2 linked regions of the Homo sapiens genome follow. The protein of the gene in region 1 purifies or fractionates together with the protein of each later gene. This does not show direct contact. Each region holds a gene or a part of one and is shown in the gene's direction. Other genes may lie near its edges. The genes, in order: RTP4 and TMEM245.

What was found.
Region 2: the proteins of RTP4 (region 1) and TMEM245 purify together in Homo sapiens (affinity purification with mass spectrometry; one large-scale study listed by BioGRID and IntAct). This does not show direct contact.

The regions. Positions count from the first base shown.
Region 1 is NC_000003.12:187,367,034-187,371,184, forward strand, and holds the start of RTP4 (receptor-transporting protein 4), read left to right. Parts: upstream 1-1,351; 5' UTR 1,352-1,408; coding exon 1,409-1,563; intron 1,564-3,754; coding exon 3,755-4,151. UniProt on the Homo sapiens protein: Chaperone protein that facilitates the trafficking and functional cell surface expression of some G-protein coupled receptors (GPCRs). Promotes functional expression of the bitter taste receptor TAS2R16.
Region 2 is NC_000009.12:109,032,664-109,036,691, reverse strand, and holds part of TMEM245 (transmembrane protein 245), read left to right. Parts: intron 1-311; coding exon 312-486; intron 487-3,190; coding exon 3,191-3,385; intron 3,386-4,028.

The DNA.
Region 1 (4,151 bases):
TGAGTTTCTTCCTTCTGGTGGGTTTATTGTCTTGCTGGCTCAAGAGTGAAGCTGCAGACCTTCCGGGTGAGTGTTAACAGCTGATAAAGGCAGAGCAGACCCAAACACTGCGCAGCAGCAAGATTCATTGCAAAAACCAAAAGAACAAATCTTCCACCACGTGGAAGGGGACCCGAGCCGGTTGTCAGTGCTGGCTGGGGCAGCCTGCTTTTATTCTCTTATCTGGCCCCACCCACATCCTGCAGATTGGTCCATTTTACAGAGAGCCAATTGGTCTGTTTTACAGAGAGCTGATTGGTCCGTTTTGACAGGGTGCTGATTGGTGCATCCACAAACCCTGAGCTAGACACAGGGTGCTGATTGGTGCATTTACAAACCTTGAGCTAGATACAGAGTGCCCATTGGTGTATTCACAATCCCTTAGCTAGACATAAAGGTTCTCCAAGTCCCCACTAGACTCAGGAGCCCAGCTGGCTTCACCCAGTGGATCCCGCCCCGGGGGCAGCAGGTGGAGCTGCCTGCCAGTCCTGCGTGTGTGCCCGCACTTCTCTGCCCTTGGGCGGTCGATGGGACCAGGCACCATGGAGCAGGGGGTGGCACTCGTCGGGGAGGCTTGGGCCATGCAGGAGCCCAGGGTGGGGAGACTCAGGCATGGCGGGCTGCAGGTCCCGAGCCCTGCCCCACAGAGAGGCAGCTAAGGCCCAGCGAGAAATCGAGCTCAGTGCCGGTGGGCCGGCACTGCTGGGGGACCTGGCGCACCCTCCGCAGCTGCTGGCCCAGGTGCTAAGCACTTCACTGCCCAGGGCTGGGGGCCTGCCGGCCGCTCCGAGTGCAGGGCCCGCCAAGCCCACGCCCACCCAGAACTCTAGCTGGCCTGCAAGCCCTGCATGCAGCCCCGGTTCCTGCCCGTGCCTCTCCCTCCACATCTCCCAGCAGGCTGAGGGAGCCGGTTCTGGCTTTGGCCTACCCAGGAAGGGGCTCCCACAGTGCAGTGGCTGGCTGAAGGGCTCCTCCAGCGCGGCCAGAGTGGGCACCGAGGCCGAGGAGGCTCCGAGAGCGAGCGAGGGCTGCGAGGGCTACCAGCATGCTGTCACCTCTCACTTTGCCTATTATAAAAAATGAGAGAGAGAAAATAAAAGCGAATTTATATGTGACCCCAGAATCTAGAACAGAGCTCTTTATCTCTCTCTCAGCAAGGCCTATTAACTAACACAGTTTTGCTGCTGTCTGTTTTCAGAACAAAGACTTGTTCTGTGTACTCAGACAGTCTAAAATGAAGGTTGAAAAAAACAGCTCATGTCCATACACAGAAACAGAAACTGAACCGAACACCGAAACTGAAACTGTTTGTCTCTTCCTGAGAAACGAGCAAACCTGAAAGCTACTCTCTCAGCTTCAGAGGGAAAAAATGGTTGTAGATTTCTGGACTTGGGAGCAGACATTTCAAGAACTAATCCAAGAGGCAAAACCCCGGGCCACATGGACGCTGAAGTTGGATGGCAACCTTCAGCTAGACTGCCTGGCTCAAGGGTGGAAGCAATACCAACAGAGAGCATTTGGCTGGTGAGTGTGGGTTTCCCAGGCAATAGCTCTTCTGAGAAGAGAGGCTCAGGCTCAGCTTAGCATGATTTATTCCTCTGAGAGCTTGTTGAAGGAGTAAATGTCACCAGGGCCTCCATCCTATTGTGGTCATAGTACTCTTTAGGGTCGACATGATAAGACGACTCCAAACCTCCATTTTGTTTAACTGCTGGAAGTTTCTTCTTTTACTAGGTTTCCCTCCGTAAATATTTCTGGAAAACCCTGGAGAAGGCTCCCTATTCCATAAATTTTCCCTTCTAGTTTCTCACCACGTCATTTGTTCCAGACTACCTCTAGAGTCTTTTGCAGTCTCCCCAGCAGTCCTGACCAGCTTCCCCCAGCTGCACCAGCTCTCCAAGCCTTGGCACTGTTCAGTACAAGCCTGGGACGGAGCCTTTTTTTTTTTTTTAAATATCTTAAGAATTGGCTAAGATCAAGCAGTTACTCTGAACATTGCTTTACTGAAGGCCTGGGGATAATAGTATAGAATGATGTTGCAAAAACTAAATCTAAAACCCAGTTCATGGAGTCACCAAGTAATACTCCTCCCTTACTCACCACTTCCCTCTTTAACCCCCAGCAAGCCTCCAGGTTGCAGGAACCAGTTTCCTTGACCATGTTAGGAGGGTGAGAATTGCTGACCTGGATAATCAAATTTATTTTTAAATGACACACAGGACCTTCGGTATAGTTTTCATCTGACCTATTACTCAGCTTGCCTGCCTGCCCCATCCTGCCTCAGGTATGGCCTACTCCATTCCTTATGGACTATTAGCTATGCCATGCATCTTCAGACTTCCACACTCTTGTTCATGGAGTTCTGCTTGTTCAGCAGACCCTCCCCTCACCCCTCCCTGCTCATCCTTCAAGGCCCACTCTAGTGCCTCCTCCTCCTAAAAGCATTCTCTGGTTCTCCTAGGCAGAGTAAGTATTCCTTCGTATACATTCCCATAAGATAATGGGATAAGATAAAATATATATGTATATGTATACATAAATGATATATAATTATATATACATATGTACTATGTATTTCAGAATAATAAATTTATAAATAATATATGTATTATTATATATTGTATCAAATACAGTATATGCTTATTTTTAGCTGCAGAATCTGTTGTTTAAATAAAGCCTCCTAAACGTCTCCAGAACAGTTCTCAAGTCACTTGTCAGAGCCCGTATAGCAGTCATGTTGCTCTGCTTTCTAATCCAGGGAAATGTGTAAATATTTCTGTCCACACCAGCCAGAGCTTTTTGAGGGACTCATGATGTCTTACAACGTTTTGGCACTCCTCCAAACAGAAAGAAGGTGTTTCTCCTGTTGGGATGATTTGATTTGATTGTCATTTCGAGATCGGAAAAGCAACCTACCAGTGTACTTTTGGAAAATATCAATCAGCTTTTGAAAAGCATTTTGTAGTTTACAAAGTGTTTTCACATACATCGTCTCTTTTGATGCTGCCAATATAACCCTTGAATTTTTTTTTTATGGATTCAAACAATGAGGGTTATAGAAGGGAAGGGCTTTGCCCAAGGTCTTCCTGATGTAAACTGGATCTTCAACCCAGGTATGAGGGATGCAGTCTGTTTCTCCAGGTGTGAGAGATTAGCTACACTACTCACCAGAGGCAACGTGTTACAGCAGGTAAATGAGTTGAATTTCAGATGGCCTGAGATTAGCAGCATGCCTCTAACATTTACCCTGTGTGTCCTTAAGCAGGTTGCGTATCCTTTTCATGATTCAGTTTCCTTATCTGGATATTGGGTTTAATAGTGCTTACTTCACAGATGAAATGGGATAAAATTATAAAGACCAATTATATTGTATGCATCAAAATAGATACTTTACCAAAGCTTTCTATGACCAAAATTAGGAATAAGTTTCTCTGGAAGATGGCAGACATGATTTTCCCTCAGAGGCATCTGGAGATGTTTTACTAGCAAAGAGGTAGACTTGGGTGTAACATATGGGTGGATACTCAGTAGGTCACAGGAAAAAGCCTTATCTGAAACATAGTCCTTCTTGTTCCTGTTTATCAATGACTGGGACAATCTAAATCACATGCATTTTTTCAAATGGAAAAGGATGTTAGTGACAGGGGCCAAGACCATTTTCCCTCAGGTTAACAACCAGATGAAGGCATAATGGGTGTCTTCCTTCTGACTGCAGGTTCCGGTGTTCCTCCTGCCAGCGAAGTTGGGCTTCCGCCCAAGTGCAGATTCTGTGCCACACGTACTGGGAGCACTGGACATCCCAGGGTCAGGTGCGTATGAGGCTCTTTGGCCAAAGGTGCCAGAAGTGCTCCTGGTCCCAATATGAGATGCCTGAGTTCTCCTCGGATAGCACCATGAGGATTCTGAGCAACCTGGTGCAGCATATACTGAAGAAATACTATGGAAATGGCACGAGGAAGTCTCCAGAAATGCCAGTAATCCTGGAAGTGTCCCTGGAAGGATCCCATGACACAGCCAATTGTGAGGCATGCACTTTGGGCATCTGTGGACAGGGCTTAAAAAGCTGCATGACAAAGCCGTCCAAATCCCTACTCCCCCACCTAAAGACTGGG
Region 2 (4,028 bases), on another chromosome or scaffold:
TATAGGACCGTATATTAACTATTGATTGATAGTAGCAACTACAGAACCCTTGAATTTTATTGCTTAAGAAGAGATCCATAAATAAGACACACACTTAGAAAGATTTTTAGTATCACATTTTAAGATATTGAGCCTTTACTTAGCTAGAAAATTCAGTTAGATAGGGCATATCATTTCCCTAATATTTGAGTTTGTGAGTATTTAACTTGTTTTGTTGGAAGTTGTTGAGGAGGAGCTACTGCTTAGATTCTTTTGCTTTGTTAGTGTTTTGCTGATGATGTTAAGTTGTTTTTCTTTTACTCTTTTTTCAGCATTAGCAGCAATCCTTGGAGCAGTGCCATTCCTGGGGACATACTGGGCAGCAGTACCTGCAGTTCTTGACCTGTGGCTGACACAAGGGTTAGGATGCAAGGCCATTTTACTGTTGATTTTTCATCTCTTGCCAACATACTTTGTAGATACTGCAATCTACTCTGACATATCAGGGTAAGTAAGCCACAGAATTTCTTATTAGTGAATCATCCAGGCATTTCCGTTTTTTTTTTTTTAAAGGAGGATTTTTTTCTCCTGGGGGTATACAAAAGAACTGGTAGTAGGAATTTTCAGTGAAATAGCCTTTTGTGTTCCCACAAATGAAATTTTCATTGAAAATAGTATTGTTTACAAGGCATGATATTTTGGGGTTTTTTTTTTTTTTTTTGGTTGTTGTTGCCCCAGAGTTCCAGAGCAACTTTTTTTTTTTTTTTTTTTTGAGACAATATCTCTTTCACTCAGACTGCTAGAGTGCAGGGTGCAGTCATGGCTCATGGCAGCCTTGAACCTTGAACTCCTAGGCTCAAGCAGTCCTCCTGCCTTGAACTTCCCAAGGCACTAGGATTACGGGAATGAACCACCATGCCCAGCCAATATTTTCTTATTACATATGTAATATTTATAATATATATGATGTCCTGGGTTAAAACCAAATTGTGAATAATTTTCTCTTGATTTAGTGACATTTAACCTAGAAAAGAATTATGACCAGATGTACATCAAATATTTTAAGTACAGTGAACAGTTAATGATTATTTTTATCTCTTCTTTGGTTTTGGAGAAAATGTTGTTAGATTGTATGTCTGAGGATATCCATGTGAAACCAAATCTCAGCAAGTTAATTTCTGGCAAGCAGAGCTCTCTAAAGATATAATTGGAATGGTTCTATGATAAATACAGGTTAAATCTAAGTCAGAATCAACACTTTAGCCATATAATACAATAAATAAATGTCTGTTTTTATAGGTTTTGACATCTCTTTTAGAAATTGCATTAAGTATATCAAGCCAGTTCTCAGTCACATTAAAACTTGAGAGAGAAAATTAAAAAGCTGAACATCATAGTGTGGTTAACTAGTGTGTCACAGTTGACATTTGAGCAGGAATAAGTATGATTAATACTTAAGTGCTTTTATTTCTTTAAACTTTGCTGTAAATTTTATATTAAGGTTTACAGCTGGAATTAAAGAAACACTGTCTTTTTTTTTTTTTTTTTTTTTTTTTGAGACAGAGTCTCCCTCTATCACCCAGGCTGGAGTGCAGTGGTGCAATCTCGCCTCACTGCAACCTTCGCCTCCCAGGTTCAAGCCATTCTCCTGCCTCAGCCTCCTGAGTAGCTGGGATTACAGGCGTGCACCACCACACCCGGCTAATTTTTGTATTTTTACTAGAGATGGGATTTCACCATGTTGATCAGGCTGATCTTGAACTCCTGACCTCAAGTGATCCGCCTGCCTTGGCCTCCCAAACTGCTGGGATTACAGGCATGAGCCACGATGCCCGGCCTAAAATACTGTCTTTAAACGTTGTTATTGGGAAATGAAAGGTTTGGCATAAATTGTTTTATTTTTTAATAGGTTAAGCTTTTATTCATAAACTCCCACACGTTTTTATTTTTTTTAAAAAAAGCTTTAAGGCTGAGCATAGTGGCTCAAGCCTGTAATCCTACCACTTTGAGAGGCCGAGGTGGGTGGATCACTTGAGCCCAGGAGCTCAAGACCAGCCGGGGAAACATGGTGAAACCCGTTCTCCACAAAAATATAAAGATTAGTTTGGTGTGGTGGCACATGCCTGTAGTCCCAGCTACTCAGGAGGCTGAGGTAGGAAGATCACTTGAGTCTGGGAGGTCAAGACTGCAGTAAGCTGTGATTGCGGCACTGCATTCCAGCCTGGGTGATGGAGCGGAATAAAAAGCTTTAAGCATTTTTGATAGTTTTCCTTGAATGTGTTGTTTAGGGAAGAAGTTTACTTAGCAAACATGGAATACTGCCCTAAATCATTTTTTTGGAATGAGAAAGACAAACACATTATGAATATAATTTATTGGTTTCCTGAAGACTGGTTCTCCACAAGTCTTACTTTGATTTAGCTGTAATATAGAACATCCTTCCAGGATATTTAGTTATTTGCCCCTCACTGAATTGTTCTTCTCATCTATGTTTAAAACTAGAAACAAACAGAATGTGACTTATTTCCCAGTCCTTCTGATGTCAGTGGTCCTTTCTTGTCATTATCAATGTGCTATGCTACTGTGTTCTGTTTTATTTCATTCCGCTTACATAAGTGATACTGTAATAAGCTGGAGGGCATTTGTGATTCTCCTGTGAAATAGAAATCTTGGGCTTTGTGACAGATATTTTCCTCAGGAGGCCTTTTATCATCACCTATGTTAAAAACTATATTTTAGGAGGTTGCCAAAAGTCTGACCTATGAGTAACAGGGATGCTCTCATTGTTGCTGTCGTCATATAAAAGCATAATTAACTGAATTACATGCTAAATTGTGCTCACTTAATTATCCTTGATGGAGGTTAACTTAACAGGTGACTCCTAACCAGTCCCAAGCCAACATTAACCCATCATAGGCAGGCACCTGTAATGGGTATAAAATATCTGTTAACATTGCTGGCTTTATTCTTTCATTCCTGGAGCTATAAAAAGAGGCAGATGTCATCCATAGGAAAAACAATTGTTGCATCTCAATATTGTTGCATCTCAATATTATTGCAGTCAGTGTTCAGTTGTATGCATCGAGGTGATCTAAAGAAAGCTGATAATATGCTAAAAAGCATAGTGTATTAAAGAATGCACATTGTATTAGAAATGTATTTCAGATTTTTTCCAGTTTTTGTGTGTTAAAGGTCGTGCTCTTTATTCCAGAGGTGGCCATCCTTACCTGACAGGCTTGGCAGTGGCCGGTGGAGCATACTACCTAGGCCTGGAAGGAGCAATCATCGGTCCTATTCTTCTCTGCATACTTGTGGTTGCTTCCAATATCTATAGTGCCATGCTAGTGAGTCCCACGAATTCAGTTCCCACGCCAAACCAGACCCCATGGCCTGCTCAGCCTCAGCGGTGAGTTAAAGCAGAATAATCATAAGCTGTATTTATACATTGAACTGTCCTGTCTCTGTATTTGATAAGTAGCTTCATCCAGACTTGTCAGGATAAAGGTATTTGAGTACCAATGCTGTGATAAAGGTTGCAGAAGACACTAAGTAAATACAAATCGTTGGCAGAGTTTTGGGTTTCATATACCAAGAAAATTTAAAACCTATATTGGGGCCGGGAGCAGTGGCTCACGCCTATAATCCCAGCACTTTGGGAGAACAAGGCAGGTGGATCACCTGAGGTCAGGAGTTCGAGCCCAGCCTGGCCAACATGGCGAAACCCCATCTCTACTAAAAATACAAAAATCAGCCAGGTGTGGTGGCACCCGCCTGTGAACCCAGCTGTTTGGGAGGCTGAGGCAGAAGAATTGCTTGAACCCAGGAGGCGGAGGCTGCAGTGAGCCCAGATTGTGCCACTGGACTCTAGCCTGGGCAACAGCATATAAAAAAAAAAAAAAAAAAAAGACCTATATTGGGTGAGAATTGTTAATGTCTTGAAAAGCCAAAAATAAATTTAAAAAATCTAATTCTATGCGGGACATGGTATACCAGATTGAAAGAGACTCAAGAAATGGACAACCAGGCCAGATGTGGTGTGGCTCATGCCT